Regions from separate parts of the Homo sapiens genome. Here regions 2, 3, 4, 5 and 6 are each reported to be linked to region 1. The links are microRNA targets in miRTarBase. Many come from high-throughput screens and were not tested one by one. Region 1 holds a microRNA gene; each other region holds the end of a gene's coding sequence.
Evidence for each region. The annotated mature microRNA hsa-miR-1247-3p reads CCCCGGGAACGUCGAGACUGGAGC and lies in region 1 at 1,486-1,509, shown strand. An mRNA with a match to its seed (bases 2 to 7 or 8) in the 3' UTR can be bound and repressed. Matches are read on the target gene's strand: a 7mer-m8 pairs with bases 2 to 8, a 7mer-A1 pairs with bases 2 to 7 and ends in A, and an 8mer does both.

Region 2: miRTarBase lists LIPH as a target of hsa-miR-1247-3p. Seed matches in the 3' UTR shown: 7mer-m8 at 2,686-2,692.
Region 3: the mRNA of SGO1 is a reported target of hsa-miR-1247-3p. The part of its 3' UTR that is shown has no 7-base or 8-base seed match.
Region 4: the mRNA of KIAA0408 is a reported target of hsa-miR-1247-3p. Seed matches in the 3' UTR shown: 7mer-A1 at 4,125-4,131.
Region 5: the mRNA of SERTAD2 is a reported target of hsa-miR-1247-3p. Seed matches in the 3' UTR shown: 7mer-A1 at 3,429-3,435.
Region 6: the mRNA of ATP6V0E1 is a reported target of hsa-miR-1247-3p. The part of its 3' UTR that is shown has no 7-base or 8-base seed match.

The regions. Positions count from the first base shown.
Region 1 is chr14:101,556,725-101,561,834 of GRCh38, reverse strand. It overlaps MIR1247 (microRNA 1247), which reads left to right and starts at 1,413; the gene lies at 1,413-1,548. DIO3 (iodothyronine deiodinase 3) reads right to left here and starts at 340. Exons shown (of 1, transcript NM_001362.4): 1 at 1-340. The coding sequence starts at 338. DIO3OS (DIO3 opposite strand upstream RNA) reads left to right here and starts at 1,413. Exons shown (of 2, transcript NR_152588.1): 1 at 1,413-1,583.
Region 2 is chr3:185,504,069-185,509,178 of GRCh38, forward strand. It overlaps LIPH (lipase H), which reads right to left. Exons shown (of 10, transcript NM_139248.3): 10 at 2,194-4,809. The coding sequence ends at 4,722. TMEM41A-DT (TMEM41A divergent transcript) reads left to right here. Exons shown (of 3, transcript XR_924792.3): 3 at 195-676. Among named protein-coding and RNA genes, the nearest start is that of TMEM41A-DT, 7.5 kb to the left of the region's middle.
Region 3 is chr3:20,166,402-20,171,401 of GRCh38, forward strand. SGO1 (shugoshin 1) reads right to left here. Exons shown (of 8, transcript NM_001199251.3): 7 at 4,642-4,831; 8 at 3,083-4,414. The coding sequence ends at 4,303. Among named protein-coding and RNA genes, the nearest start is that of SGO1-AS1, 5.4 kb to the right of the region's middle.
Region 4 is chr6:127,439,545-127,444,544 of GRCh38, reverse strand. It overlaps KIAA0408, which reads left to right. Exons shown (of 6, transcript NM_014702.5): 6 at 263-5,000. The coding sequence ends at 436. It overlaps SOGA3-KIAA0408 (SOGA3-KIAA0408 readthrough), which reads left to right. Exons shown (of 13, transcript NR_174482.1): 13 at 263-5,000. Among named protein-coding and RNA genes, the nearest start is that of KIAA0408, 17 kb to the left of the region's middle.
Region 5 is chr2:64,631,126-64,636,216 of GRCh38, forward strand. It overlaps SERTAD2 (SERTA domain containing 2), which reads right to left. Exons shown (of 2, transcript NM_014755.3): 2 at 496-5,091. The coding sequence ends at 4,802. Among named protein-coding and RNA genes, the nearest start is that of SERTAD2-AS1, 3.3 kb to the right of the region's middle.
Region 6 is chr5:173,020,048-173,025,149 of GRCh38, reverse strand. It overlaps ATP6V0E1 (ATPase H+ transporting V0 subunit e1), which reads right to left. Exons shown (of 4, transcript NM_003945.4): 3 at 4,783-4,912. The coding sequence ends at 4,819. It overlaps SNORA74B (small nucleolar RNA, H/ACA box 74B), which reads right to left and starts at 4,424; the gene lies at 4,221-4,424. RefSeq lists a silencer at 4,630-4,924.

The DNA of each region.
Region 1 (5,110 bases):
GACGCCAGGGTGCACAGGCGGTTGTCGTCGGACACGCAGATGGGCGGGTCATCGGGAGGCACCTCCTCGCCTTCACTGTTGAGCTCCACTTCGGGCTCGGGCTGCCCCCGGCGGCGGCGGCCCAGGAAATGCTTGCGGATACACAAGAAATCGAGAAGCCAGAGCATGAAGGCCGTGCCGAGGAAGCGCGGGAAGAGCACGAGGCACGAGGCGGTCTGGGCGCAGAGCCTCAAGGAGTGAAGCAGCAGGGAGCGGAGCATGGTGGCTGCAGGCCCCGAAGCCCCCTGGGACCCCTCGCCCTCTCCGACCACCAACCGCGACGTGGCCTGGCGAGGCATCTGGGCTTCAGCAGTGCAGGGAGTTCAATTTATAGCGGAGGCTTCAATTGGCGGGAGACTCCACCTCCGGCCCGGCCCGCCCCCTTGCAACTTGAGCCCGGAGGGATCACCCAGCAGCGCGGCCAATGCCCTAGAAATCTTGGGCTGAGGGCGGGCGCAGGCGGGCGGAGGGCGGAGCGGCCGGGCCTGGGGCCGGTGGGGGCGGGCCCGGGCCCCGCAGCCAGCTCTCGGGGGCGGGGGACTCCGGCAGCCGCTGCCGCTGGGGACCGGGAGCCCGACCAGGGACCTGGGCGTCCGCTGGGGAGGTCCTCCAGCTGGCGCGAGCGCTGCGCGCCGCCCTGGTCCCCGCCGCCTGGCTCCGGCCCGCGCCCCCCTCGCCGCGCACCTGAGCCGAGCTCCCCGGCGGCCGCCGAGCCGCGCCGGAGCTCCGGTTCGCTTCCCGCGCGCCGCCGCCAACGCCGCCCACGCCGCTGCCGCTCGTGCGGGGCCGCTGCCCAGGTGCCGCGGGAGGCCGGGTCCGCGGCCGCCGCTTCGGTGGCCCCGGCTCCCGCCCCACCGAGGACGCGGGCCAGCGAGGAGGCAACTTTGCGTTCCCGCCGCCTTCCTGGCTCGCCCGCGGGCGCCGCTCGCCTGCCGGAGCCCGCCCGCCCGCCTCCCGCGCGCGCTCACACTCGCGCCTCGCACACGGCCGCCCCCCGCACCGCCCCGCCACGCACACCGCGCTCCGCGCCCCCCGCCGCTGCCCGAGGCTGCCGCGCGCCGCCCCAGCCCGCGCCGCCCTGGCCGCGCCCGCCCCGTCCCATCTCGTTCCAGCGGGGCGCCGCGGTTCCTGGGTCAGCGGCCGCCGGGGCCGGGCTGAGAGGTGCGGAGGGCAGAGCCCGCGGGCGGGTTACCGCCGGGCGCCGGAGACCGGAGAGCTGGGGAAAGCGGCGCCGGCCCTGCGCCCCCAGCCGACCCGGGCGCGGGGCGCCACGGGCGTGGGGCGCGGGGCAGCGGGCGCGGGGCGGCGCCGGCCCCGGGCGGCTCTCCCACTAGGGGTAGCTGTTGCCTGAACGCCGGAGCGCTCCCCTCTCGCCGCTTGCCTCGCCCAGCGCAGCCCCGGCCGCTGGGCGCACCCGTCCCGTTCGTCCCCGGACGTTGCTCTCTACCCCGGGAACGTCGAGACTGGAGCGCCCGAACTGAGCCACCTTCGCGGACCCCGAGAGCGGCGGCGCGACTCACCGCGGAGGCGCCCGGACGCGTCAAGTGCGTACTTTCAACCGTAAATGGGTGCTGAGCGTTTAGGGGTGCGGGGCAACTCCCTAACTCGTGGGGCCCTGGCCGGCCCTGCCGCGGCGTCCGAGACCTTCTGATCCCTCGCTGCGCGCGGCGCGGGGTTGGCGACTTGGGCTCAGGGGCGGCGGGGCGGGGAGGTGCCTTGACCTAGGGACCCAGAGGCCGGGAGCAAGTCTCCTTTCGCCTTGGACTGCAGTGTCCCCCAGGGCAAGGCCTGAACCAGGTCGCGAGGGTCTGTCTCCCGTCTGGGGAGCTGAACTGCCCGAGACACTGTCGCAGTCGCGGGGACTTGTCTGGAGCGGCGGGGTCTGAGCCCAAGTCGGAAGCCGCCGCCGCCGCCAGCGTCCCGTGCGCCTGCCGCCCCGGGACCAGCCGCGAAACTTCTTCTCGGGACGGAGACAGCGCTCGCCGCCCGGGCCGAGGTAGGAGCTGGCTGGGCTCGGTAGAGCGCGGGCGAATCGCTTTCGGCAGCGAAGGAACGTGTCGGGAGAAGCCAACTGCAGGACCAGGGCCCCAGCGGGCGCGCAGAGACGCCTGCCTTGGGCGGAGGTCCCCCCCTCCGGTTTTCGTGGCTCTGGTAGGGCCCTCTGTCCCGTGAGCTCCTCACTGGACCTGAGGCTACAGGCTTCAGCAGGTCAAGCGCCCGAGTGTGCCTGGAGGATTGGCGGCGGGGTGGCATGAGAAGGTGGCCCCTCTTCTCCATCTCCCAGTCAGGCGATTTCTCTGCTGTCTGGGGCAGGGGCGCACACCCCAGGAACTTACTACGTAGAGGGAAGCCAGCCTGGTCTCTCCCCCTTGCGTCAGTGCTCCTAAGCTGCCCCTCACCACTCTGGGTAGGGGTCTTTCAGGTGGGCTAGGGAATTCTCCTTGGAAGTCCCCTTGTTTGCTCCCCTCCATCAGGGCACCTCTGAGTTAGCCAATCATCCTCTTTTCTGGCCTCTTTTTTGCGGGGAGGAGAGTAGAGAGAGAAGCCTCCTACTCGGCAGGTCTCTGAGAGGAGGTTTGGGGGGGCTTCTGAGGTTGCTCCTCCTGGGCAGAGTCAAGGGGTGTTGAGGGTTCCAACTTTTACTGGACAATCTCTCAAGCTCTGATTCCCTGATTTCTGGGAGGTGTCAGTGTAGGGCTTGTGTCCTGCCCCACCCACACAGCATTTGGTGCAGGCACATGGGATGGTTCCCCAAGCCCTTTTCCCACAGTTAGTTTCAGAAAATGCATAAGCCACCTAAGGCTGGGAGAGCCTTTCTGTGCTGGCTGAGATCTGGTGGCATGTGCATGCATATGTGTGCAAGTGTGTGTGTGTGTGTGCAAGTGTGTGTGCGCATGTGCATGTGTGTGGAAAGTATGGTCTGGGTGGCTGTAAGACTGGCCCCTCTTGTCCCCTCTGCAGGCCCAGCCCAATAGGAAGCACCTGATCCACACTCTTTCTAGCCCCAGGGATGCTCAGGAAAGCAGCCTTTCTTTAGGGCTGTCATCTGTTCTGGGGATCTGTTGCTGTTTCTTGGGCCCACAGAATACACTCCACACCTCGGGACTCCATAATATTGGACAAGGCTGGAAGGCCCATTTGGCTCCTGCAGCCTCTTATGCAGGTGAGGACAGACCCAAGGTCCAGGCAATGCTGGCCTTTGGAACACAGAACCTGGCTCACTGACTCCCACTCCAGTTGTCTTTTCCCTCTGCCTCTGGAGCAACCCTCTCTCCTCCAGAGCAACCCCTGTCCCTCCTTCCTACCTCTCTCTAGGGCTGCACCCCCAGCTCACCTTAGACCTGGCCCTTCCTACCTGTTGCCCCTACTGTCTTGTCCCATCCCAGTGGTCAGGAGGGAGAGTACTGGCCAAAGGCCCAGCTCCACCTGTGACTTAGGGGAGTGCCAGGCATCACCCAGAGGTCCCGGCCCTCGGGGGCCTGGCAGGCTCTGCTGTGGGGGAAGCAGAGTTAGAACTGGGGCTGCTTCTCCTGTCCCCCAGCCTGGCTGGGCCTCCCCCACCTCCCTTTCTGCCTGCCCTCTTACAACTCCAGCAGGGGGCGGGCAGGGGAAAGAAAAGGAGGGACAAGTTGGATGGGGTCCATTTGGTGTCCAGGAACAACTTGGAGAGAGGCGGGGAGGGGACAGGCAGCAGGGCCCTGGCAGAGCCAGGGGAGGGCTGGCCTTTGGATGGCCTTCTGATCCCAAGCCCATCCTCCTGGGGCAGTCTTCCCTTGAAAGGGAGGGTTTGGTGAACCCTGGTGCGGACCCCCCCGCCGGACCTCACTGCCCCAGTGCGGGGCGTGGTAGGCGGGTTTGCAATGGGTACAGCCTCTCTCTCCATTCCAGTAGAGCAGCTCCCAGGGCCCAGAGAGGCTGTCACTGAGACTTCCCTCTGGGGTGGGGTGGGTTCTGGTGGCCCTGTGTTCCCCTGCAGGAGGACCTCCTGAGGCTTCGGGCAGGAGCTGGTGCACACCTGGAGGAGAGTGCTGGTGAATGGCAGGTGTGTGCCTCAGTGTCCTTGCTGCCAGGGTGTCAGCCCTGCTTCACCACTGGCCGTTTGTCTCTGTCCCCTCCACTGGCCTCTTGAAGCACAGAGACCCTCCGGGTACTTTCCTTCCTCTGGGCTTCCACTCATGCTATTCCCTGCTCCCTTTTTCTACCTGGAGACCCCCATTCCTCCTCCTCCTCTGCTGCCCTCACCTCCACCTGGGCCCTCCCAGCTCCCGGGAGATGGCTGAACCCCACTCCCCACCCGCTAGTCATCCTCTTCAGCGGTCCTCCCAGAGCTGTCCTCAGCATGGCAGCCTCCACAGCCCCTGGGTGTCACCCCCGGTTTCGTGTCTGCCTCGGACTCCAGACCTGCCCCTCCCAGGCTGGCCCAGATGGATCCTCTACAGTGACTAACCCAAACCAGCACCAGGCAGGGACCCAATAAACCTTTGTGAATGGAGTAAATGAGTGCGGTGTGTACTTACTGAAAACTCCTTGTTTGGGGAGAAACTCAGGGTATTTCACTCTGTCCTTTTGCGCACCTGCAGCAGTGAGCTGGGGCGGCATGTTGGCAGCCAGGGCTGAGCACGGTGGGTCAGGACCTGCCGCTGTGAGCAGACAACACTTCCTGGGAAGTCCCCTTGGGGCGTGGTGTCTGGTGAATGCACCCATCACCTGGTCACTGGGCCAATCCGTTTCCCTTTCTGGGCTAAACAGGTCTTCCCACGGGTACCTGGGCCCTCCCACGGAGGTATTTACCCTTCTCATTTACTTTAAGAATGAATTCTTCTATCCAAACACTTGGCTAGGTTGATCATGGGGACACCCTGCAGGGGATGGGGTGGGAGATGGCTGAGGGACCCAGAGCTCTGGTCTGAGCGGTGTCCTCAACATGGCAGACCTCCATCCCTCTGGGAGTTTGAGGCAGGCACAGGGGAGGTGGCGGGACTCTGGGGTGACTGGGCAGGCTGGGATCCCAGCCAGGACAGCTTGTCAGGGCCCCAGGGCCTGGATCTAGCAGAGGTGTTTGGCAGCATTT
Region 2 (5,110 bases), not on the chromosome of region 1:
GTCCCTTGCATCCAAAGTCTCCTTGGCTATAATGGAGTTCTATAGGAATGAGAGCAAGGGGCAGGAGCCCAAGGGTAGGAGGTTCTAAGTTTAGGACTTTAGAAATAACATTGTTAAGTGTGTTGATGTCTAAGTCAGAATGGAGGTGATTCCCTCAAGTTTCTAAGCATCATCCATTCCATTCTGTCCAACAGACATTTATCAAGCACCTACTCTGTGCCTAGCATTGTGCTAGGTGCTAGAGAGCCAAAAATAAATAGCAGCTGCTCTTGTGGAGGTCACAGTCTTGGAGGAGTTAAAGACACGGAAACAAATTACAACACAGCGTAACAGCAGTGACAGAAGCACGTATGATATGGTTTGACTGTGGCCCCACCAAATCTCATCCTGAATTGTAGTTCCCATAATCCCCACTTGTGGTGGGAGGGGCCCAGTCGGAGGTAATTGAATCATAAGGGTAGTTTCCCCCATGTTATTCTCGTGATAGTGAGTTCTCATGAGATCTGATGGTTTTATAAGGGGCTTCCCCCTTCACTCAGCTCTCATTCTTCTCTCTCCTGCCACCATGTAAAGAAGGATGTGTTTGGTTTCCCTTCCATCACGATTGTAAGTTTCCTGAGGCCTCCTCAGCCATGTGGAACTGTGAGTCAATTAAATCTCTTTCCTTTATAAATTACCCAGTCTTGGGTATTTCTTCATAGCAGCCTGAGAAGGGACTAATACAACATACGAAGTTGGCAGCAAAGTGAGTGGTGGAAAGGAGAGTCATGGAAAAGCAAACAAGGGAGGGTTATAACTACAGCTTGGCATCCTCCACTAATGTTGTAAGGTCCTGGAGCATTTTGGCAATGGTGCTAAAATGAGGATGTAAGGACAAAATCCCCTAGATTTTCGACAGGTGAGCTTGTGAGGTGTTGGGACCACCTGGAAGATGTGATAAGAAGTGACAAAGGGGCAGGGTGTAGTGGCTCACACCTATAATCCCAGCACTTTGGGAGGCCAAGGCAGGCAGATCTCCGGAGTTCAGGAGTTTGAGACCAGCCTGGCCAACATGGTGAAACCCTGTCTCTACTAAAAATACAAAAATTAGCTGGGCATGGTGGCATGTGCCTGCAAGCCCAGCTACTCGGGAGGCTGAGGCAGAATAGCTTGAACCCATGAGGTGGAGGTTGCAGTGAACTGAGATCAGGTCACTGCACTCCAGCTGGGCAACAGAGCAAGACTCCATCTCAAAAAAAAAAAAAAGTGACAAAGGAGCCAACTTCTCTCTTTTCCAGGAAGTCTGGGAAATGGGCTATTGGCCTCCAAAGATAATGGAGACAATAGTAATGAAGGTGTCTGGGAGAAAAGTCTAAGGCACAGAAGGTTAGGCACCCTCATGGAAACAGACTATGGCTAGGGTGGAGGGCAAGTCTTTACTCACAACTGAACATGGTTCCATGGGGCTCAGAAAATAACAAAGAGTGTTCATTTAATAAATGTTTCCTGAAAGCAGACTATATGGTAAGCACATGGCTCCTGCCTTGCAGAGCAGTCTAGTGGAGAAGACAGATATTTATCAAATAATCAGGCAAATAAAATAAAAAAAACAGGCTGGGTGCGGTGGCTCACGCCTGTAATCCCAGCACTTTGGGAGACCGAAGCAGGCAGATCACTTGAGGTCAGGAGTTTGACATCAGCCTGGCCAATATGGTGAAACCCCGTCTCTACTAAAAATACAAAAATTAGCTGGGCATGGTGGCACTGGCCTGTAGTTCCACCTACTTGGGAGGCTGAGGCATGAGAAACATTGGAACCCAGGAGGCAGAGGTTACAGTGAGCCAGGATTGCACCACTGCACTCCAGCCTAGGTGACAGAGTGAGATTCCGTCTCAAAAAAAAGAAAAAATGTTTAAAAATACAACTAAAAAGTGCTATGAAGGAGAGGTACAGTGTGGAACCTCTCTGTATGGAAATAAGGTCCAAGAAGACTCCCTGAGGAGGTGGCAATTGAGCCACGATCCAAATGATGAGTAGGAGGTCACCAGTGAAGAGGGGAGGGAAGAGGGTAGACTGTAATTTAATTGTGCTTTGAATTTGGCACTCAGACAGATATATGGTACTGAGAAAGAGAGGGGAAGAGAAGCAAGGATAACAAGAGACAGTCAAAAGTTCCAGGGGCCCTTGGAAGAAAGATTCTGAGAACAGAGTGGCCACAGTTATAACTGCCTTTATTTCTCCTGATCACTGTTACATGAAACTTACTGAAATTCATCTCCTCTCCGGTGAACAAACTTCCTTTCTTTATCCATTCATTCACCCATCTACCCATCCTACAGTGAGCCAGGTACTGAGAGCTAGGAGACCCACGAGCCTAGAGTTTACAAAGTAGTAGAAATTCTATTTCTGGCATTTTCTTGCTATTGTTTTGACTCCCTGCTTACCAGGAAAGAGAACAAAAAAGTGACTGTGCTGATCAAAACACAGACCAATAAAACTAAGAAGAAACCAGGGCTGCCGGGTACGATGGCTCACACCTGTAATCCCAGAACTTTGAGAGGCCAAGGCCAGTGGATCACAAGGTCAGGAGTTCAAGGCCAAGATGGTGAAACCAGGTCTCTACTAAAAATACAAAAATTAGCCAGGCATGGTGGGGGCGCCTGTAATCCCAGCTACTTGGGAGGCTGAGGCAGAGAATTGCTTGAACCCGGGAGGCAGAGGTTGCAGTGAGCCAAGATCGTGCCACTGCACTCCAGCCTGGGTAACAGAAGGAGACTCCATCTAAAAAAAAAAAAAAAAAAAAAAAAAAAAAACCAGGGCCTACAGCACACTGATCTCTCTATCCACAATTGCTGAGGAAATGTGAGAAGGAGGAGGAAGGATGGTAACATGTCCAAGAGCTTGTTCCACTCAGAGTTCAGTCATCCCTCACTTAAATAAAACAGACTCTGTATTTGCTGCAAATGTAAATCTGTAAGAAGATGTGCCACACAGGAATACATTTATAGATTTCTTTAATTTATGACATAGAGAATCCATTTTTGGCCGGGTGTGGTGGCTCATGCCTGTAATCCCAGCACTTTGGGAGGCCGAGACGGGTAGTCACCTGAGGACAGGAGTTCGAGACGAGCCTGGCTAACGTGGTGAAACCCTGTCTCTAATAAAAATACAAAAATTAGCCGGGTGTGGTGGCACATGCCTGTAATCCCAGCTACTCAGGAGGCTGAGGCAGGAGAATCAATTGAACCTGGGAGGTGGAGGTTGCAGTGAGCTGAGATCGTACCATTGCACTCCAGCCTAGGCAACTCCAAAAAAAAAAAAAGAGAGAGAGAGTCAATTTCTTCATAACAAAGGCTATTTTCACAGATAGCAGTTGAAGGAGCAATCACTTGGGTGAAGAGGAGGTGACTGGGCCTGTCACCTCCTTTTCACAGACCTTCCTGCAGTGGCCACAGCCATGGGACAGATCATGCCTCCCCTCACACTGGGCATCTGGCCCCAGGGATTGTCCTCCCTTCTTTCTGGCCTTGGCCTGACAGGACCTCTTGACTGGACTCCTGCTGTCATTCTAGATTTGCAGACAGCATCTACCTCCAGGGAAGCAAAGGATTCCTCAAACTGGAGTCTTCAGATTCTCCAAAAGCAAACCGGTTCATGTTTTGAATTCACGTGTTGGCAAAATAGGTGACAGCCTTGTTCCAAAAGGCTAACATTAATTACCTCTAATAGGATCGTGGACAGTATTTTTTTTTAATTTTGTATCTACGCATTTTCTAAATTTCCTTCAATAATCATAGATTACATTGGTAATAAAGAAACATAAACATTTCTTAAGGGTTGCTTAAAATGAGCGTTGCCTGTAAAGTGATCCTTCTCCACCTTAGGTGAAAAATAAGCTCTGCTTTTCCTTCCCTTGCCTCATGCTCCATCCCCTGTCCCCATGTGAAGAGGCTGCCCCACGGCTTCCTCGTCCTTCTTTCTTCATCCACTATCTAGTCCCAGCAGCCGCCCTCTTAGCTGTCAGTCCATCCCCATCTCCTCCAGCTCCTCCATGCTCCAACAGCACTTTAGAGAAGGCAGAGGGCCAGCACGTGGCTTTCTTGCCTTCCCTGAGCAAACAGCCCGAGAGAGAAGCTGGTGTTGATAGAGAGAGGCTCTCTTATTGCAAATTAGATAAGCCCAAATGTAAAAGCATATTCACATTTATCAAACATCTCATAGATGTGGCACCTATGGGATTTCAAAAAACCCTTCATAGATTTTTGCCTCCCAAACCCACACAGCAGCCCCATGAGGTAGACGTCAGTTTCGTTCCCTTCTACGTGTGGGAACTGGAGGAATGTGGCACGGAGAATGCAGAGTTGAGTCCACGGTGAGGCCTCCAGTCCGTCCTTCCCTTGAAGATGCTTGACCCGCAGCCGCGATGGGCAGAACCACCCGCGTGACAGGCAGCAGAATTGACAGGTCGGAACAAGGGAGGCCCCAGGACACAGCAGACACAGCGCTGCGCTGCTGCGAGCCTGGCTATTTCTGACTTGCCCTAGTTAGGGGCTCCTTCCCAGGATCGTTTTATAATCACAAGGTTGTTTGATGTACAATGTGACATCCATAGGACGCTACTGAAAAAAGCCTTGGTTTTTTTCATACTTTTTCTGCCTTGCAGAAAGGTGAGGTGAAGCTTTCAAACAGCCTGTGGTTGTAGCTTTCTTTCTATTATTTATGGCCATGTGTCCTGGCAACAGTTACAACTGCAACTCTGGGCAAAGAATAGGTTGGAAGACTGTTTCAACGTTTTCCATCAGGACAAGATCATACCGACACAGCTGAGGCCTGGGAAAATAAGACAAAATATCCTTGTAAATGAATTTATAAAAATGCAATGGTCTAGTAAATAATATTATATCCTTAAGATACAAAATTATTTAGCAATTGTTTTTAATATAGAAAACACTTACGGTGGCCAGGCACGGTGACTCATGCCTGTAATCCCACCCAGCATTTTAAGAGGCCGAGGCGGGCAGATACTTGAGGCCAGGAGTTCAAGACCAGCCTGGCCAACATGGCTAAACCCCGTCTCTACTAAAAATACAAAAATTAGCTGGGTGTGGTAGTGCGTGTCTGTGGTTCCAGC
Region 3 (5,000 bases), not on the chromosome of region 1:
TTAAAAAGGAATAAAATTTTGATACATGCTATAACATGGATGAACCTTGCGATTATTATGCTAACTAAGCCAGACACAAAGGACAAATATCCTATGATTCCATTTCTGTGAGGTACCTGGAACAGTCAAATTCATAGAGATAGAAAGTAAAAGTAGTGGTTACCAGAGGTTGGGAGAGAGGGGAGAAGAGAGAGTGATTGTTCAATGGGTATAGAGTTTTAGTTTGGGAAGAAGAAGTAGTTCTGGAAAAGGGTAGTGATGGTTGCACAATCATGTGAATGTACTTAATGCTACTGAACTTTACAAATAAAATGATCAAAATGGTCAGGTGTGGTGGCTCATGCCTGTAATCCTAGCACTTTGGGAGGTAAGATTGGACGATTGCTTGAGGCCAGGAGTTTAAGACTGGCCTAGGAAACATAGCCAGTCCCCATCTCTACCAAAAAAAAAAAAAAAAAAAAAAAAAAAAAAATTAGCCAGGTGCAGTGGTGCAAGCTTGTAGTCCTAGGTAAAGGGGATCCTTTGAACCCAGGAGTTTGAGGCTACAGTGAGTTATGATTGGCCACTGCACTGCAGCCTGGGTGACAGAGTGAGAATAAAAAAACAAAAATAAAATTTAAAAAGATCAAATGATAAATTCTATGTATATTTACCACCCCTACCAACACACAAAAAAATTGTGACTATACAATATACCCAGCATAAAGCTAAACAAATAAAGCAATGCAAAGAAGCCCATTCTATGACAAAGCTAGGAATATTCAGCAGTGGGGAAAGAAGACATTAGTCAATGAATTGTGCTGGGACAACTGGTTATCCTCATGGGAAAAAATAAAATTAGATCCCTAGTCCTCAAAATAAATGCCATATGGTTTAAAGACCTTAAAGTGAAAAACAAAAATGTACAAATTATAGACAAAATCTTAAGGAAGAAGGTGGTAGACGATACTAATATTTAAAACTCCTAAATATCAAAGGGAATTATAAGCAAGGTATAAAAAAGGGCAGAGATTGAGGAAAGATACTTAGAATACTTGTCAACAGAAAAAAAGGAATAGTGTGTAGACTATATAAAAAATCCATAGTTTTACATTCTATTAGAAAAGCAGGCAAAAGATATAATAATTCATAAAGGAAGAAATGAGAATAATAAACACTTGAATTCTCATAAATAAATCAATCAGATACAAGTTCATAGTAATTAAAACAAAGAAATAATTTCATACTTCCTGGCTTGGCTAATTTTAATGTCTAATAAAACTAAGTGATCGACAGTGTGTGGTGCTACTGGAACTTAGAAACTGCTATTAGGAGAGTGATATACTCCTTATAACAGAATTGGTGGAACCACTGTAGGAAGCAATTTCCTAACTAATAGTAAAGTTAAAGTTCAATATACTCTACAACCAAGCAACTCCACTTCTAGGTATTAACTTTATAGAAAGTTAAGCACTTTAAGTGTACAAAGATGCAGAATATTCACTGCAGCACTAATTTGTAAATAATAAAGTGGAAATGAATTGTGTCTCAAAAGAAGAAATGAATAAGTCTGATTTATATAATAAACTGTACAATGATGAAAATAATCTACATCTGCCAACACGGATAAATCTCAAAAACAATATTGAGTTAAAAGTCAGTTGTAAAATGATGTGTACAATATTCCTATAAAATGTTAAGATATAAAACAATACTTAAAAGCCTATGAACAAATATGACAGCAAGACTATAGGAACACTAAAAATACAAACAATTCAACACTGATTTTAGGATAATGATTGACTTTGGGGATGAAGGGAAGGTAAGGATCAAAGCTAGATCAGAGTGTCAGACCAGAATGATCTTTAAGGCAAAAGTAAAGTACTCAATGGTCTAGAGCAGGAGTTGGCAAACTTTTTTGGTAAAGACCAGAAAGTAAATATTTTAGGATTGTAGGCCAAGAGGCAAACTCAAGAATATAATGTAGGTACTTTACTGGAGTTCAAAGTTAGTGCTTCTATCATTAAAATTGATTTCAAATGTTTGCTTTTTTTTTTTTTTTTCAACTATTTAAAAACGTAAAAACTATTCTTAGGTTGAAGACCATCCAGAAGCAGGTGGTGTGCTAGATTTGGCCCATAGTCCAACTGTACTTTCTGTGATGATGGAAATGTTCAATATTTCCTCAATTGTCTAATATGGTAACCACTAGCCACATATGGCTACTGATCATTTGAAAGGTGGTTACATGGACTGAGAAACTGTTTTTTTTTTTTTTTTGAGATGGAGTCTCGCTCTGTCACCCAGGCTGGAGTGCAGTGGCACCATCTCGGCTCACTGCAAGCTCCGCCTCCCGGGTTCACGCCGTTCTCCTGCCTCAGCCTCCCAAGTAGCTGGGACTACAGGCGCCTGGCTAATTTTTTCTATTTTTAGTAGAGACGGGGTTTCACCGTATTAGCCAGGATGGTCTCGATCTCCTTGACCTCTCGTGATCTGCCCGCCTTGGCCTCCCAAAGTGCTGGGATTACAGGTGTTAGTAGTTTCTCGTGCCTGGCTGAGAAACTGACTTTTTAATGGTCTGTAGTCTTAGTTTAAGATAGCTACTCTAGTGTTTCCATGAAATTAAAGAATAAGTATGAAGGGAGTAGTAAGAAAAAAAAAACTTAAAAATTAAGAGACTGTGATGGAAGACTAGGGTGTATGAATCAGTGATGTGGCGGATAGAAAAATTTGGGATGATGAAAAGGATTTTGGCTCTGACTGACATAGAATACAGAAAGATAGGGAGATAACAGCCAAGAAAATCTGAGATATCAGGATTAGAACAGTCCCTCAATAAAATTATAATTTGTTAATCATGAACTGGGAGATTACACAGAGATAAGTTGGGAGAGAGAAGTGTTAGGTTGAAAGTATGGAGGGGAAGCTGAGAGTTTTATAGCAATGACTACTGAAAATACTAAGGATTAACTCACCTAGAACACCCCCCCCTCAAAAAAGAGAATACCAAGGGGAGGGGAGAGGAAATGTCCAAGGATGAGAATAGTGAAGACAGAGAGATACTCTATTTTTGATATTTAAAGAATAGAAGGAAAGCAATCACTATCTTATACAAACTTTATTGCTCTTTAAAAATGAATAACCTACAAAGTTCTAAAATTTAAAGAGGTATATACAAGTATAGACATCAAACTTTCTAAACTGAACTAATTCGCTTTCATTGGTTGGTCAAAAATATGCAAAAACCCTAAATATTCACACATTTAATCTCTGAGATTTCTGACTAAATAAGGAGCTACCCTGAAAGTACATGACATTTGTAATTTTATGGAGACATCACTCTGAACATACAATTAGAGCTTGGGGTTCACAATTAGTCACTTATCTTGTCCCTGAGCCTAAAAAAGAATCAATTTCTCTAGTCATTTTCCCATACATATTTTATCTGAAAAATTAAATATAACAGTGGTATAAGGAATTCATAAACAACTTAGGGTGTACCCTACTGTAAATGTCAAATATTTATTTTACTCGAATACTACACAGAGTTTCAAAAGATCCACAATAATTTATTTTACTCAAATATTGTACTAAAGAGTTTCAAAAGATCCTCTTAGAAAATCATTCACTTTAGTATCCCCTACTTAAGGGAAAAATAGAGATGCCAGAAGCTTATAATTAAAAGATCTTATTTGAGTAATCATTATTCATTTCTACAATGTTTGTATAAGATACATTTTGGGCTGGGCACAGTGGCTCAGTAATCCCAGCACTTTGGGAGGCCGAGGTGGGCAGATCACCTGAGGTTGGGAGTTTGAGAGCAACCTGACCAACATGGAGAAACCCTGTCTCTACTAAAAATACAAAATTAGCCGGGCGTAGTGGCACATGCCTGTAGTCCCAGCTACTCGGGAGTCTGAGGCAGGAGAATCGCTTGAACCTGGGAGGCGGAGGTTGCGGTAAGCTGAGATCGTGCCATTGCACTCCAGCCTGGGCAACAAGAATGAAATTCCGCCTCCAAAAAAAAAAAAAGATATATTTCGACTAAAATTAAGAGGTTTAGGCAGCATAAGAAATCGATATGATGATAATGCTTAAGCTCAGTTATTTATATTCAAAAGAAAAAATAAATTAAATTTATTAAAGTTTTAATACAAAGCATCCCATTTGAAGTATAGTTCTGAAGAAATGTTTATGAGCTAGGGTCCTGTCAAGAGAATATTCTATGGCAATGGCTCACTCTGTTTGTGTACTCTTACAGATCCTCTCCTGAAGCAACAGAAAGAGGTGTAGATTGAATTTAAACAATATCCAACAAAACCTTCATTGTATTTGTTTCATACTTTTTTTAGAACGTCTCAAATCCTTTTTCTGCTTGAAAATAGGAGAATTCAAAAAACACAAATCTGTAAAAGGGTCCCCTCTTCTCAGTTTCCTGTAAGAGTAAAAAGAGATCTCAGGCATAATGTAAGCATCCCAATATTAACTTACTCTTCCCTACCAAGTTATGGTAAAACACACCAATTTTAAATGTTCTCACTTCAGTTTTTTTAAATCAAATGTTTATATTTCAGAAAAAACTCATTCTTGAACAAAGCTCCATAACCTTATTCCCCCCGACATGTATCATTAAAAATAAGTTCCCACAAACCAAATACTTACGAAGCGAGGGTGGGCTCCTTATAGTTCACGCTGGCTGTGCACCTACGTTTAGGCAGAGCCACTGCTGGGCTTGCTTTATTCTTTTTTGGAGAAAGAGAAAGTCTTCTGATTTTCACAACAGGATACAAGGAGACATTGGTGATATCCTTCAGGCTAAGATGAGGTGACTGCTGAGTTTCAGGTGGTGTAGCTACAAAACAATTTTTACTGAATATGATTTAAAAAAAAAAACCCACACAAAAACTTAAATTGTACTCAATTGTATATATCTTAACTGTACACAAAATCCAGCATTTAATAATAGAATTTTTTTTTAGATGGGCTCTCACTGTGTTGCCCAGGCTGAAGTGCAGTGGTGT
Region 4 (5,000 bases), not on the chromosome of region 1:
TTCTACAGAGAGATTAACTGTATTAAAATTTGTCAGTGTAAGGAAAGGTACAAAATTATCAAATATCATATTCCATATTAAAATTGAATTGCTTTAAAACATTCAAAACCACAAATATTAGACAACTACCTTCTTTAGTTTTCAATGCTTTTTCTTTCTTGTAAATTTACTAACGGACTAATCTTATAGTTGAGACCCATCATATATTAAGCCTATTGTTGGTACCCAGAGAGTGAGAGGAATGTTTTTACTTGTGTCCTAGGAATCCATGTCAGTGAACGCCTCACATGGAAAAGGATTTTCCCGACCTGCTAGACCAGCAAATCGTCGTCTCCCCTCCAGATGGGCATCCAGATCTCCATCTGCACCCCCTGCCTTGCGGAGAACTACCCACAACTATACCATTTCTCTGCGATCCGAAGCATTGATGGTTTAAGTCTTTGGCCTGGATTGCTATATTACAGAAGTTCTAGTCCCACTTGTCAAACAGAGCATTCTGAGTGTTTACAGGCGGACCTGTTCTCTTCCGACAAGCAATTTGAATCTTAACTTTCCATCAGTCTTCAGTGTTTTTAATCTAAGGAATAATTATCTTCCTGCATTTTGATTTCTTAGATCAGAATTTTTTAATGCCATCCTCATTAGTTTTCCAATACAATATAAGTTGAAACAATGTACAATATTGTATATTCTTTGTTGCAAGTGGCAGAAAGTAAGGTTATGTGCATGGCCATGTGTTTGTAGGTGCATGTGTTGAAATAGGAAGTATCCTAGTATGTATTTAGATATGAAAAACTTATGTGCTAGTGTTGACTTTGAAATTATAACATGTATACCTATATATTCTTTGTGTTTATTTAAAAGTTTTGAAAATATGCAGTACTGTTTATATTTTGTATACCTTTTAATAGGTATCCACTTAAGGCATTTGCAGTACAAATATTAATTGACCACTTCCTTGGCCCCCAGCTACAATGAAAAAGAAGAATTATGCACACATCTAACATTGGTAGATTTCTAAAGACAACTCATAAATAATTTCTTAACCCATATAAGGATAAAATAATACCATTGATATTCTTGTTTATTCTTTTTAAATAAAAATGTCACAAGTTTAATAGATCAGCCTTGTAAAGCAAGCATAAAATGTTCATAAATGTTTTATATATTATTTGGTAGTCTAGTATGGCTTTAACTGAATATTTGATCCTCAGAGACAGTATCATGAGACTGCATTATAAATGACATGATTAAATGATGAATTTATTTTGTCAGCCTCAGCAACAAACATTTCCTAAATGGGATGCAAAAAGAAACTGAATGATGTTGAATTTTAGTTTTTCTTTAAGTTGTGGTAAGCTTTTAGTTTAGCTGCTTTAACATGGAGTCATACATACTTAGAGGTAAGTCATTTATTATTTTTTTCCTTTTTCTAATCTTTTCCTTAAAATTAATAGATAACAAACTAAGTTACTTTTTTACTAACAAGGAAGATCAGGAATAATATTTCTTTGAAAGCTGAAATTATACTTCTCACAGTTTGCTACCGAAAAAAGGCTTAAACTAAACCTTGACATCCACAGTAGCATCAGGAATAGAAATGTGTATTTTGGCTACAGTTTGCATACAGTGAACACATAAAATCTATATTGAAAACTGACAGAAATATGAATGTCGAGGGGCTTGGAATTCTAAATGGAAGATTTTAGAAGGAACTTTGCTCTCTACTGTCACTATATAAAACCAATTATGTTATGTTATTAGATATTAACTCTATTTAAGCTTTTCTTTTACTAAGAAATTCTTATGCCAAATGTATTCCAAGAGCCATCTCCTTATGATGTATTTGAACCATTTAGAGAAATTCACTTCATTGTACCCCATGACCTGAGGTAAAGAAAATAATTTTCAAATTGCAGACTTCCTTGAAAGGCTCAAGACTGTAGCATGGTGATGTCTAGATTCATACTTTACTGTAAGGACAGTTTCGGTAGTTAAGTGGAATTAAAGGTCTAGAGTGATTTGTATTGGATGGTAACTAAGGTCTATACATCTACTCTTTTAATTCTTATTTCCTTCAGGAAGATCCTTTTCCACAGGAAGCTATCAAAGAAAAGTAAACTAGACACCAAGTAATATCACTCTCATAATATGCTTTCCAGCTAGAGGGGAGAAAACACCAGGAAAGAGGAACCCTGGGTCATAAAATGACGGACCTGTTAGGAAAATGCTGTTGTGTGACAATGGAGAGCCTGCCCAAGGACTGTGCAACCTATCTGTTCCTCTCCACCAGTGTATCCCAAGTAGTCTGGTATGATCTGTGGTTCCTTAGAATATTGAGGATCTCTTTAAAAAATGAAATTTCTGATCTCACCCCATATTACTAAAGCAAAATTTCCAGGGGTAGGGACTGGGACTCCAGAACCATTAATAAAACAAAACAAAACAAAGCAAAATATTGATGATCAGGCAGATTTGAAAACAGTGACATTGCTTGATCTCTGAATGGATGGATGCCCTTGGGTGGTCACTTTTCTTCCTAGGACTTGCCTTTGTTATCTGTAAATTAGAATGGCTATACTTTCAGACTTCACAATTTTAAGCCACTTTTTTCTATTAACAGTTGAATGAACCAGTGGGACACATTTTAACGTCTTCTTATGTTGACTAAAATTATAGTTAGAGCTGAGAAAAAAAAAATAGCATCTAGTCCAACTCCTTGATTGTAAAACTGAAAAACTAAGGTTATTTGAATGTTCTGTTTTCTCTTTTTAAATATTTTATAACTTTTAAATGGAAAAACCTATTAGGTAAATGGAAATAATCCTTGAAAATAGTTTTTGATGTTTTGTGATTTTTAACTGGTAAATTTCTACTTTAGGTGGGCATTTTCTTCCCTAGAATATGCCCTTTATTATGCTATCATTGCTAGATTTAAAGGGACTTGTAAGCATTTCTGGAAATATTTGATTTAAAAACATATATTAATAGATGTTTTCCCTAGCAGACTTTTGGAGCAAAAATATTATTTTAGTTCAGCAGAGGATTACTGATATTATGGGCTGATCTCAGAAAGGAATAAGGATGAGGCAGAGAGGAGTACTTGAGTTTGTGTGTGTGTGTGTGTGTGTGTGTTTGTGTCAGTGTCACATAAGTTCTCCATATTGCCTTATGTCCCAAAGCCAAATATAAAAATATAAATGATGCTTTGTATAATTCATTTTATCAAAAATTACCCATAACTTTCATTTGTTTTTATATCGACAATGAAGATGATCATATTTCATTTTGCAGATGTGGCCATAAAATATTATTTACTTCTATATAGGTGATTTTACCAGGTTTAGTTATCCTGAGAAAACATCTGGACTTAAGAGTTTCTGCTTCCCTACAAAGATCTTTAAAGTTATTTTTAGGCACATTTGTGACAAACAACTACTTGATATTGAAATCTCCTTCAGCCATTAGAAGCTATCAAATAAAGTAGGTGTAAAAACAACTGTCTGTGGCATTTGTATACATCGAGAACATTTTTCTTTCCCTCATTTTCTGCAGTGAACTCCAGTAAAGCTAAGTGTCTTATGAAATCTAAACTCATATATGTACACAGTTCACTCTAGCTTCTTCCAAAATATCTCTAGGTAGTACAACTGAAGCCAAACCTGCCTGACTTCCTGCTCCTGGCCACCCAAAACTCCATATGGCTTCTCGTACACTGACATCCTCTCTCTACCCATTTAACTGCTAATTGAGTCTGATAAAAGTCTTCTTTGAAAAAAGTTTTTACTTCTAAGATTTGCATTTACATCATAAAATTAAACCATTTTCAGGAAAATCAGATTTTTTTATTACAGTACTATTTGCTTTAAATTCGGCATGTTTTTCTTAAGTAGCAAGTACATGTATCGGAACTTAGAACTGGTGGGCGCGGTGGCTCTTGCCTGTAATCCCAGCACTTTGGGAGGCCAAGGTGGGGGGATCACGAGGTCAGGAGATGGAGACCATCCTGGTTTCATCACGGTGAAACCCCCTCTCTGCTAAAAATACAAAAAATTAGCCAGGCATTGTGGTGGTCACCTGTAGTCCCAGCTGCTCGGGAGGCTGAGGCAGGAGAATGGCATGAACCCGGGAGGCAGAGCTTGCAGTGAGCAGAGATCGCGCCACTGCACTCCAGCCTGGGTGACAGAGTGAGACTCTGTCTCAAAAAAAAAAAAAAAAAAGAACTTATAACTATGACTTGTTCATCTCACCCTGAAAATATGTTCCTACAAGAAAATGTGCTTTGCAAAGCAAAAAAGGCAAAAATTGGGGATGAGTTCTTCAGACAAGTACCAAAAATGATTTCTCGTCATTTTTATTGTATGCATATTCATCATAGAAAATAATTTTTTGTTTTATTGGGAATAAAATCATGATACTTAAAATCTGATACACATTTCAATGATAGTATTAATCCAATAGGTTAAATTAACAAATTCTTAGGAAAAAAATCTGTTTATATGAAGCTATGGAGAAATCTAGAAAGTAGGTAACGGTTTAGATTTTGAGGGACCTATGAACTCAGAACAAGTTCATTTAGAGGTGGGAAACCTGAGATTCAAAGAGGTCTGCATGGCTGCCAAGATTGCAGGGACAGAATCCAAGCCTGGGCTCACTCATGATCTGCTCTCCTGTATAAATGTCCCATGTGCATCTATGACCTTATTGTTTGCAAAGCAAATTCATATTCCACGACTTGTCTGCTTCTTACAACAAACTACAAGGCAGGCATTGTGATTTCTAAGTAAGAAGGAAAAATTAAGTAGTCAAGATAATATTTAGAATAAATATTTTTGAAGATGATAGTTAAATAGATGGCTCTTCAGACTCCTAGCTCAGGCTATTTTTCCAGCCTTCTTTTCCCAAGGAAGAGAAGACAAAAAAAAAAAAAGATTGAACAGCTCTTTTTCATTTTTGTTTTGTTCATTTTATACATGACACAAATTGTTTATCTTGCTCTC
Region 5 (5,091 bases), not on the chromosome of region 1:
TGGAGCAGAGTGCTGAAGACAACGAGCCCACAGAAGAATCAGCCCCCAGGGGAAACGAGAGCTCTTTAGACGCGCTGAGAGTGAGGGAGCAAATCTTGGTAGATACTGAAGTCTGGAGCTCAGGAGAGAGGCAGGGGCTGGAGACCAGTTTTGAGAGTCCTGAGTGGATTAGATCACCTTGGGAAAGCAAGAGGCAGCAGGAATGGAGGCTCAGTGAAGTGCAGTCATGGGCCAAACCCTGGAAAAGACAATGTTTTAAAGAGAGCTGGGGCACAGATGTGAGAAAAAGGAGGTCCAGAAGGGTCCAAGAAGCAGGAGGAGAACCAGGAGAGAAGGGTGGTTCCTGAGACCAGGACGGTTCAGGAAGACCAACAGCACGCACTCCTTCGGGGCCCCCCTGCTGCTCTCTCTTGCTGGACTTTGCTTAATGTGAGCAAACTGTCACAAATAAGCTGATTGAGCTCCCATCAAAAGAAAACTGCAAGCATGCCTCTCTCATCTTTTAACTGTTTATTGTATAATATAAAACTACAAAAGTAAGACTGCTCATTTCCATGTACATTTAATCTGTCCAATTGTTTAGATTACAGCCCAAACCTACATGTGAATACAGCCATCTGGGTTCCGATGTAACGTCTGTAATATTGCATAGAAAAGGCACAGCTCTCAGGTCTGTGGGGGAAAGGTTATACCTCCTTTTTGACAAAAGCCCTCCTCAAAAACCATGCACCAAACATGTCACTATGTACATCTTTTTTCAAAATCTCGGTCATGCGCACATATGGCCTGCATTTCTCTTCCAAAACTTGTTATCCCCAAAAGAAGTCCAACTTTTTATTGGCTTTGTCTGCAATAGCATTTGATCCTGGCTAATTTTCAAGAACCATTCAGACTCATTCTTAGAAACACTGAAAACAATTGTACATAAGCAGGATGCACACAACTCCATGCCTCCAGGTGCGGGGCAGTTACAGGAAGGTAACCATTTACAGCCAGAAAAGGTTAAATATACTCTTTTCATTGTTTTCAGAAAATGTATAAAGGTCCAATTTGTAACAGCAAGGTTTTCAAATTAAGACAATTCGTATAGAGTAGCAATTGCTGCACGAAGTAGAGTCTTTTTTTTTTTTTTTTTTACATTTGTCATTTAAGAAGGCTGCCCTGCGGTATTCATAATTCATTGTTTACCACAAAGGTGGTTCATAAATTTAAGCTTTAAAAACGATCTGTAAGTTGATACTTTGGCTCTTTGGAGCTTATTTCATTAAGAAATTTTCCTTGATTGACCTCAGGGCAGCTGGGGCACTCCAAGGGGCTATGGCGATAAAAAGCTCAATTGGTAAAGACACTCGAGAGGTGCAGAGGAGGCTCTGGCCACTGCTCACCCTTTGGTATGAACAAGGGTGCCCATGTGGTTGCTCCTTCTGTCATCCAGAGAAAGTGCTACTAAAAAAACTTTAAAAAATATCAACCCTTTGATGCTTTTCTTAAAAATTTGGAGGTATTAAAACATTCCTCATACCTTTTGCATATTTCAAATAGACCCATATTAGAGAAGAGTAAAAATGAATGCGGACTGTGCATACAATGAGAAGACCTGGGGGCCTGGCTTGGACCCCCTTTTAATACAGATTTACATTCCTACAAGAGAATACATTCCTACCATACATTCTGCACATGTTACGATCCAGATGTTAGCGCTCCACAGTAAAATAAATATATTTACACAGAAAAAAGGAATAAATAACTTATGGGGGGAAAAAAACTCACTTCAAATTCAAAGCTCTTACGATTCTGCTCTCATCTTGTCACTTCATTGCACATCAGTGTCAATAACTGTCCTCTCCCAGCCCCAGCTCGGTTTTCTCGTAAAGGCACCTCAAGCTGCCTGCCTGGCCCTGGATGCCATGTGATGTCTTTCATAAAGGGAAGGCACTGCTGGAAGCACATCCCACACTCAAACTGGGACTTGGAGATCCCACTCCAGCTCCTACTGTTCCCTGTTGGGACATCACTTTGTAAGAATAGGATGCAAAAGCAATTAGAACCCTAGATCATTTTGATCTTTCTGAAAATGGGCTGCTAATTTTCCATGTCTTTCTTGTTAGACTTTGAGTATCAGGGATTTATGGCAACGGTGTCAGAGTTAAAAAGCATTTGCCTGCTGTTTTTGGGGTTTTTGTTTTGATTTTGAAGCCCAGCCTTACAAATACATAAGAGTCAGAGAACCAAGTTTGGGCAACACTTCTCCGTGCTTATTTGAACTGTTGCCCAACATATGGGATTTGTTTAAACACATGATTTGCTAATCCAACAAAAGTACAGTTGTTGTAAGTTACTGTAAATCAGTTTTTAACAATGGCAAACCAACTGTTTTACCCTGTTATTGTTCAGAATCATCAATACTATTGTATATGTGTACGTAGGTAGATGTGTGCAGCATGCGGCAGGTTTGCCAGGTCCTCCAGTTATAGAAAGCATGGAATCTGGGCAGACTTGTTCTCTGCAAGAAAGGGAAGCTCTTAAAATTAACAGGCATACTGACACTGGAAGCATCTACTACAACCCTCACCTCAGTTACATGGTCCCTGGTCCTATTAAAGGAAATGACACACCTGTAGCAGTACGAGGTGTCTGCGTGGAGGTTGCTTGTAGGAGAACAAGTGCAATTTGATCAGTTTCTCACTGCTCTACTGAGCTGATAATTAGCCTTTAAAACACATTCAAGTGGGGGGAAAAAGTAAATTAGAATGTAGAAAGCCTTTATCATATCATACTCAAATCTTTTGCTTAGATGAGCAGTTCCTTCATCACAAACGTCTTTGCTTTGCCATGTGCATTACAAAAATAAAACTAACTATGGCTTGCTTAAAGTGCCATTTTATAAAGTTGTCTTTTTTAATTAGCCAGAAAGACCCAATTTTATCCATGGCAAGAAGTGAGCAGAATTGGTGACTGAATATTGACAAATGACCAACAACAAAGACAACAACAACAACAAAACATCCCATAATTTAAAAATTTTTAAATAAATATAAAAGTTATTCCTAAAGAAGCCATCTGCATAACAATATAGGTTGTAACCTGCACTCAACAGCTAAAGTACCATTGGAAGAAAAGAAAAAACTGAAACAAGAAGGCCATAAACAGTTTCGGCAACAAGCATGATACATTGCAACCTTTTTAAAATTAAATGTACACCACTAGGAATAAAAAGCTACTTCTCAAGTGTGTCCTGGGAGATAAGGTGATGGGGGGGGGAATTGGGGGGAGGAGGGAAAACATGCATAGAAAGTCCTGTCTGAGTTTTGGGGTAAAACAGCCTTGACAAGTGTGAAGTAGCTGACTCAGGAAAGCAACCAGATGGGAAGCTGTGACGTAATGTGATGAACTCCAGGTTCAAGAGTCACACATGTTGTAAGAGTGCATCCCGGGCCGGCCGAGGCGAGCCAAGCTCACTGTGGTGATCACGAAGATGCCATTTTCAGCTCTTAGCAACACAGGGAAAGCTCTAGGGAAAGGAAGCTGCAGAAGACAATTAAGCAACATGATGGATGCCTTCTGGGGAGATTTTCTTCTTTAAGGGCCCTAAGCATTGCAACAGGGCTGAGTTCCATGAAGAAGTTGGTTGCTTTTCGGATGTAAAATTTTGTTCGGATGTAAAATTTCAGGTCATCATAAAAATTATGCCAAAAAGGAAAGATCTGGGTTTTCATTAAAAAACAAAATAAAAACAATTAAAAGCGCAAACTTGGCATAAATACACTCTTAAGAAAGACAGTAGCTTTACCCTCAAAAGAGGGAGCAAAAGAGAACCATCACTTAAACCCCCAGCTCCACAGCCATCTCCCGCCAACTGCTTAATGCAAGTTTGATGAGCACATGTGGCTCTGGCTTTGGAAGTCACAGTACTGGCGGGTGTTGGTGCCAGGGGGTCAGTGCTTGTGAAATTTGGGTGTGATATCACCTGGCCCTTTCTTAAAGCACTGTGTGTGTGTTTATGGGTGTGTGCATGTGTGTGCCTGTGTTTGCATTTGGGGACATCAACTGCAGATTGATTTGATCCAATTTTCTCTTGCACCATACACATATAAAACATTACAACTCTATAAAAGTACAAGTGCAACTTGTACATCTGAAGTTTGCAGGAACTATGTGAGCAAATCCTATCAAAATAGCTATCTCATATGTATAAACAGCATTTGTTTTTAGAAAAACAATATCATAAACTGCAGAATCTGTACAAAAATATAAAATAAATTTGGGCAGCAGTTTTCTAAACAGCCATGTAAATGCAACACTTACGAGGAGTAGTTAATGCCTCTAAAAAGGCCGAATTGCCAAGTCAACCTATACAGGGCAAAAATGCCAGAAAAGGTACTGAGATTATCTAAATAAGATATATATATATAGTTTTCTTCTTTACCTCTTGCAATAAAACTTATAGAAAAAATAGACAAATATGCACATGCAATTTACAGCTTTTCCAACTTAATCCTTGTGCTTCACTTGAACTGTTTATTTTTGTCATTCAACATTGCAACATTGTCTTCAAATGGATTCTTTCCTATACCAGGGTAGTAGGTCTCTGAGGAACCACTCAAAAAAGTGTATTAAAAGTGGTCATACTTGGATGAAGGCACTCCAACTCTGCTCAAAGCAAAAACTAGTGTGATCCTGTTGTAAAATTTTCTTTTTCTCTGAAAAAGGCAAGCAAGGGTGCATGCACAGTGTGGAGAACTGTCAGGGTTATGGGAACGCTCTGGGGTCTGGGTGGGCATAGTCGCTGGGTCCCTGGGTCTTAGGACCCAACAAGCACCTCCATGATGTGGTCCAGCTCTGTGAGGTCCATTTTGAAAGGCTGACTTGGGGTGACAGGCTGACTGCTGTAAGGAGCCAGAGTTTTGAGGAGGTCGTCGGCAGACACAGGGGCCATTTTTGAGGCTGTCCCTGATGAGGAAGTGCAGGGGTCAAAATCATACATGGACGTATCAATGTCAGCAAACAGGATGTCATCCAGGGTCAAGTCTGTCAGGAAACCCGTGGACGTCGTTATTTCAAAATTCCCAGGCAGAGAGTCCATCAGTTTTG
Region 6 (5,102 bases), not on the chromosome of region 1:
AAAAAAGAATGCCAGGCACAGTGGCTCACACCTGTAATCCTAGCACTTTGGGAGGCTGAGGTGGGTGGATCACGAGGTCAAGAGTTCGAGACCAGCCTGACCAACATGGTGAAACCCCGTCTCTACTAAAAACACAAAAATTAGCCAGGCGTGGTGGCGCACACCTGTAATCCCAGCTACTTGGGAGGCTGAGGCAGGAGAATCGCTTGAACCCAGGAGGCAGAGGTTGCAGTGAGCCCAGATCACGCCACCGCACTCCAGCCTGGCGTCAGAGCGAGATTCTGTCTCAAAAAAAAAAAAAAAGAAAAAAGAAAAAAATAAAATAAAATAAAAACTCTGTAATGTTATATTTGAAGAGAAAATACTAATGTAAACTTAAGATTATTTTTCATCTGAAAAATACATTACTTCCTGGTTCTTTCCATTGAAAAGGCTTAGAAGCAATTATGCTTAATTACCCCAGGCAGCAACAAACGCACCTAGCACTCCGATCGTGATTCTTAAATGCCATTTCCACTGAACAGAACCAGAGTCAAATGGGCCTGAGAACTGTTAGTAAACCAGACATCCTTTTAGTGGGGAATTCAGAAACCAATTCAAAGAACAGCTAAATCTAAGTCTCGGACAGAAAATATAGAAGAGGGGCCTGGACATTTTGATGTTGCCAGAAAGTAAGGAAACTACCAAAAACTAACACCAAAAGTACATAGAAGCCATCCTAAACAGGTTCTCACAGACAAAAAACAACAACAACAAAAAACAACAACAACAAAACACAACCATATAAAGGGTAAAAAATATAATTATTTAAAATTTAAAAAAAATCTCATTGAATACCCTGGAACTTGGCCACCAACATCTTACTATGAAAATTAAAAGAATTAAACCTGTATTCTGCTTTTCCCGTATTTTTGTATGATCTGTATTTCTTTCTTTTTTTTTTTTTTTTTTTGAGACGGAGTCTTGCTCTGTCGCCCAGGCTGGAATGCAGTGGCGCAATCTCCGCTCACTGCAAGCTCCACCTCCTGGGTTCATGCCATTCTCCTACCTCAGCTTCCCAAGTCGCTGGGACTACAGGCGCCCACCACCATGCCTGGCTAATTTTTTTTGTATTGTTAGCAGAGAAGGGGTTTCACCGTGTTAGCCATGATGGTCTCGATCTCCTGACCTCATGACCCACTCGCCTTGCCTCCCAAAGTGCTGGGATTAGAGGGGTGAGCCACCGTGCCCGGCCCCATGATCTATATTTCAAGTCTATTAGATCATCCTGTTGATGAGGAAAAGTTTTTTGTTTGTTTGTTTTTTGAGACAGAGTCTTGCTTTGTCACCCAGGCTGGAGTGCAGTGGTGCGATCTTGGCTCACTACAACTTCCACCTCCCAGGCTCAAGTTCTCCTCCCACCTCAACCTCCTGAATAGCTGGAACTACAGGTGTGCACCACCTTGCCTGGCTAATTTTTGTATTTTTTGTAGAGACAAGGTTTCACAATATTGCCCAAGCTGGTCTCGAACTCCTGGGCTCAAGTGATCTGCCTGCCTCAGCATCCCAAAGTAGTGGGATTACAGGCATGAGCCACTGTGCCTGGCAGGAAAGTTATCTTTATAGAAGCATTTCAGCTCATCAAATGCAGAGGTAATAATACAATTGAAAAATCAGACGGGAATGGTGGCTTACGCCTATAATCCCAGTATTTTGGGAGGCCTAGGCGGGTGGATCACCTGAGGTCAGGAGTTTGAGACCAGCCTGGCCAACATGGTGAAAACCCATCTCTACTAAAAGTAACCAAAAATTGGCTGGGTGTGGTAGCACACACCTGTAGTCCCAGCTACTTGGGAGCCTGAGGCAGAAGAATCACTTGAATTCAGGAGGCAGAGGTTGCAGTGAGTTGAGATCGTGCCACTGCACTCTAGACTGGGTGATAGAGCAAGACTCTGTCTCAAAATGAATAAATAAATAAATAAATAAAAATAGAACTGGAAAAATCATCATTTGCGGCCAGGCACGGTGGCTGATGGCCATAATCACAACACTCTGGAAGGCCAAAGTGGGAGGATCACTTGAGCCCAGGAGTTTGAGACCAACTTAGGCAAGATGGTGAGACCTCATTTCCACAAAACAAAACAAAAGTCACACGTGGTGCTGCGTGCCTGCAGCTGTTAGGGAGGCTAAGACAGGTCGATCTCGGGAGCCCAGGAATTCAAGGCAGCAGTGAGCTATGATCACACCACTGCACTCCAGCCTGGGCCATAGAAAGAGACCCTCTCTCTCTATAAAAAATAAATAAAATTTTAAAAATTAGCCAAAACATGGACCACATAGTAAGACCTTGTCTCTATTCAAAATTTAAAAATTAGCCAGGCACGGTGGTGTGTGCCTGTAGTCCCAGCTACTCAGGAGGCTGAGGCAGGAGGATCACTTGAGCCAGGAGTGTGAGGCTGCAGTAAGCCATGATGGTGCCACTGCATTCCAGCTGGGTGACAGAGACTCTCTTTCAAAAACAAAAAAGTTAGGGTATGGTGGCTCATGACTGTAATTCCAGCTACTTGGGAGGCTGGGGCAGGAGGATTGCTTAATCCCAGGAGGTCAAGACTGCAGTTAGCCGTGATTGTGCAACTGTACTCCAGCCTAGGTGACAAGAATGAGATTCTGTCTCAATTAAAAACAAAAACAAAAACAAAAAACAGCAGCAGCAGCAAATCACCATTTGCCATTTCAACTAAAATGATTAATTCAGGCTATGATCATCAATGGATAAAATCACTTGATAAAAAGGACTTTACAAATGAAGGAACCAGGCTGTCATTACCTGAACCCAGTGATCACATCAGCCTTACTAAACATAGGAGAGCCAGAGCCAGACATCCTGTTTCTCCAGATGGGAGGCAATACACAGTTTACAGTAACACCTAAAGAGCCAAAAAACTTGAACCTAAATCTAGTCAAGGCATTTAAAGCTAACTTCCATTTAACAAAATAATGAAAACAACGAACAGATTAAATAAGAGGTTTCCTGACTCTCGGCCAGTGAATAAATCTTTCCACTATACCACTACTAACCTCTCTGACCCTCAGGACAAATAGAAGCTGCAACCTTAAGACTGATTTTCCTTTTTCTGAGACGGAGTCTTGCTCTGTCGCCCAGGCTGGAGTGCAGTGGCGCGATCTCGCCTCACTGCAAGCTCTGCCTCCTGGGTTCAAGCCATTCTCCTGCCTCAGCCTCCCGAGTAGCTGGGACTACATGCGCCCACCACTGTGCCCAGCTAATTTTTTGTATTTTTAGTAGAGATGGGTTTCACCGTGGTCTCGATCTCGTGACCTCGTGATCCACCTGCCTCAGCCTCCCAAAGTGCTGGGATTACAGGCGTGAGCCACCGCGCACGACCAAAGACTGATTTTCAAAAGGCACTGATATGGCTTGGATTATATGTCCCCTCCAAATCTCATGTTGAAATGTGATCCCCAATGATGGAGGTGGGGCCTGGTGGGAGGTGTTTGGGTCATGGGGGTGGATTCCTCATGAATGGCTTGGTACCCTCCTGATATGGTTTGGCTGTGTCCCCACCCAAATCTCATCTTGAATTGTAGCTTCCATAATTTCCACGTGTTGTGGGAGGGACCTGGTGGGAGATAACTGAATCATGGGGGCAGTTCCCCCATACTGTTCTCATGGTAGTGAATAAGTCTCACGAGATCTGATGGTTTTATAAGGGGAGACCCCTTTTGCTTGGTTCTGATTCTCTCTTGCTGCTACCATGTAAGAACTGCCTTTCATCCTCCGCCATTATTGTGAGGCCTCCCCAGCCACGAGGAACTGTGAGTCCATTAAACCTCTCTTTCTTTATAAATTACCCAGTCTTGGGTATGTCTTTATCAGCAGCGTGAAAATGGGCTAATATACCTCCCCATAGTAACGAGTGAAGTAGTTGTTAGTGCACACAAGAGCTGCTTGTTTAAAGGAGCCTGGCACCTCCTTCTCTCTCTCTTGCTCCCTCTCTGGCCATATGACACGGCTGCCCCCCTTTTGCTTTCTGCCATAAGTAAAAACCTCCTGAGGCCTCACCAGAAGCCAAACAGATACGGGTGTCATGTTTATACAGCCTGCAGAACTGCGAGCCAAATATAAATTACCCAGTCTCATGTATTCCTTTATAGCAACACAAAACAAACGGACGCAGGCACCTTTCTCCATCCAAAGCATTCAAAAACCTTAATTTTGTTTTCTCTGTCTGCTCCCAGACTAGAACTAAGCAGCCAAAGTGAATGCTTAGCACACTCTCGGGGAAGCACAGCTCTGTCTTGCACCAGTGCCAGACGCCACCAGAACAGTGGCGCAGGCAACCGGATGAAGACAAGACATTCCTCTCCCAGCAGTGTAACACCATCACAGGAACGGTTCTGTCCGGATGGCTGACTACTGCTGGAAAGAAACCTGCTCAATTTTAAATCTGCCAGCCACTTTTTAAAGTTGCTGGATCTCACAATGCCAAGTATAAACAGTTACTTTTTTGATCTGCGTCTGAAAGAGTGCATGCAAGCTTAATTTTGTAAATTAAACTGTATTTATTTAAAAAGGCAGGGTGATAGCAGAATCTAAAAAGAATCTTAATGAGATTTAGGTAAGCTAAGGCTTAAGTTCCAATTTTATTTCTGCTCTTCAGATCGTGTTTGCATTCAGCAGCTTGCCCTTGCCACGTGTTAAAATGGCCATAAAATGTGAGAAAAAGTCAAGGCAAACTCTGACTGCCTGACCATACTGATAAGAAAGGTCACAAGCATAGTCACCTCAAAGACTGAGCACTGTAGAGCATGTCTTCTTCCTCAAGGCCAATGATACTTCAGATACCAGATGGTTTCATTTTTCAATTGCGGTCCAAAGAGAGGGTTGAGTTGGGCCAGAATTGCAATCAGCCAACTAAAAGAAGGATGGGAGAGAAACAACGAAGCGGTGAAATCATGTTGGAACATGACCATTTTCAATTAGCATGGAAAAAGTACACTAGCAAAACTTAAATCTACTGCATTCACACCAAACTTTCCATATACATTGTGTTAACAGCAGCATGTCTGATAACAAAATGTTTCCCAGGACGTAGCCTGCCTTC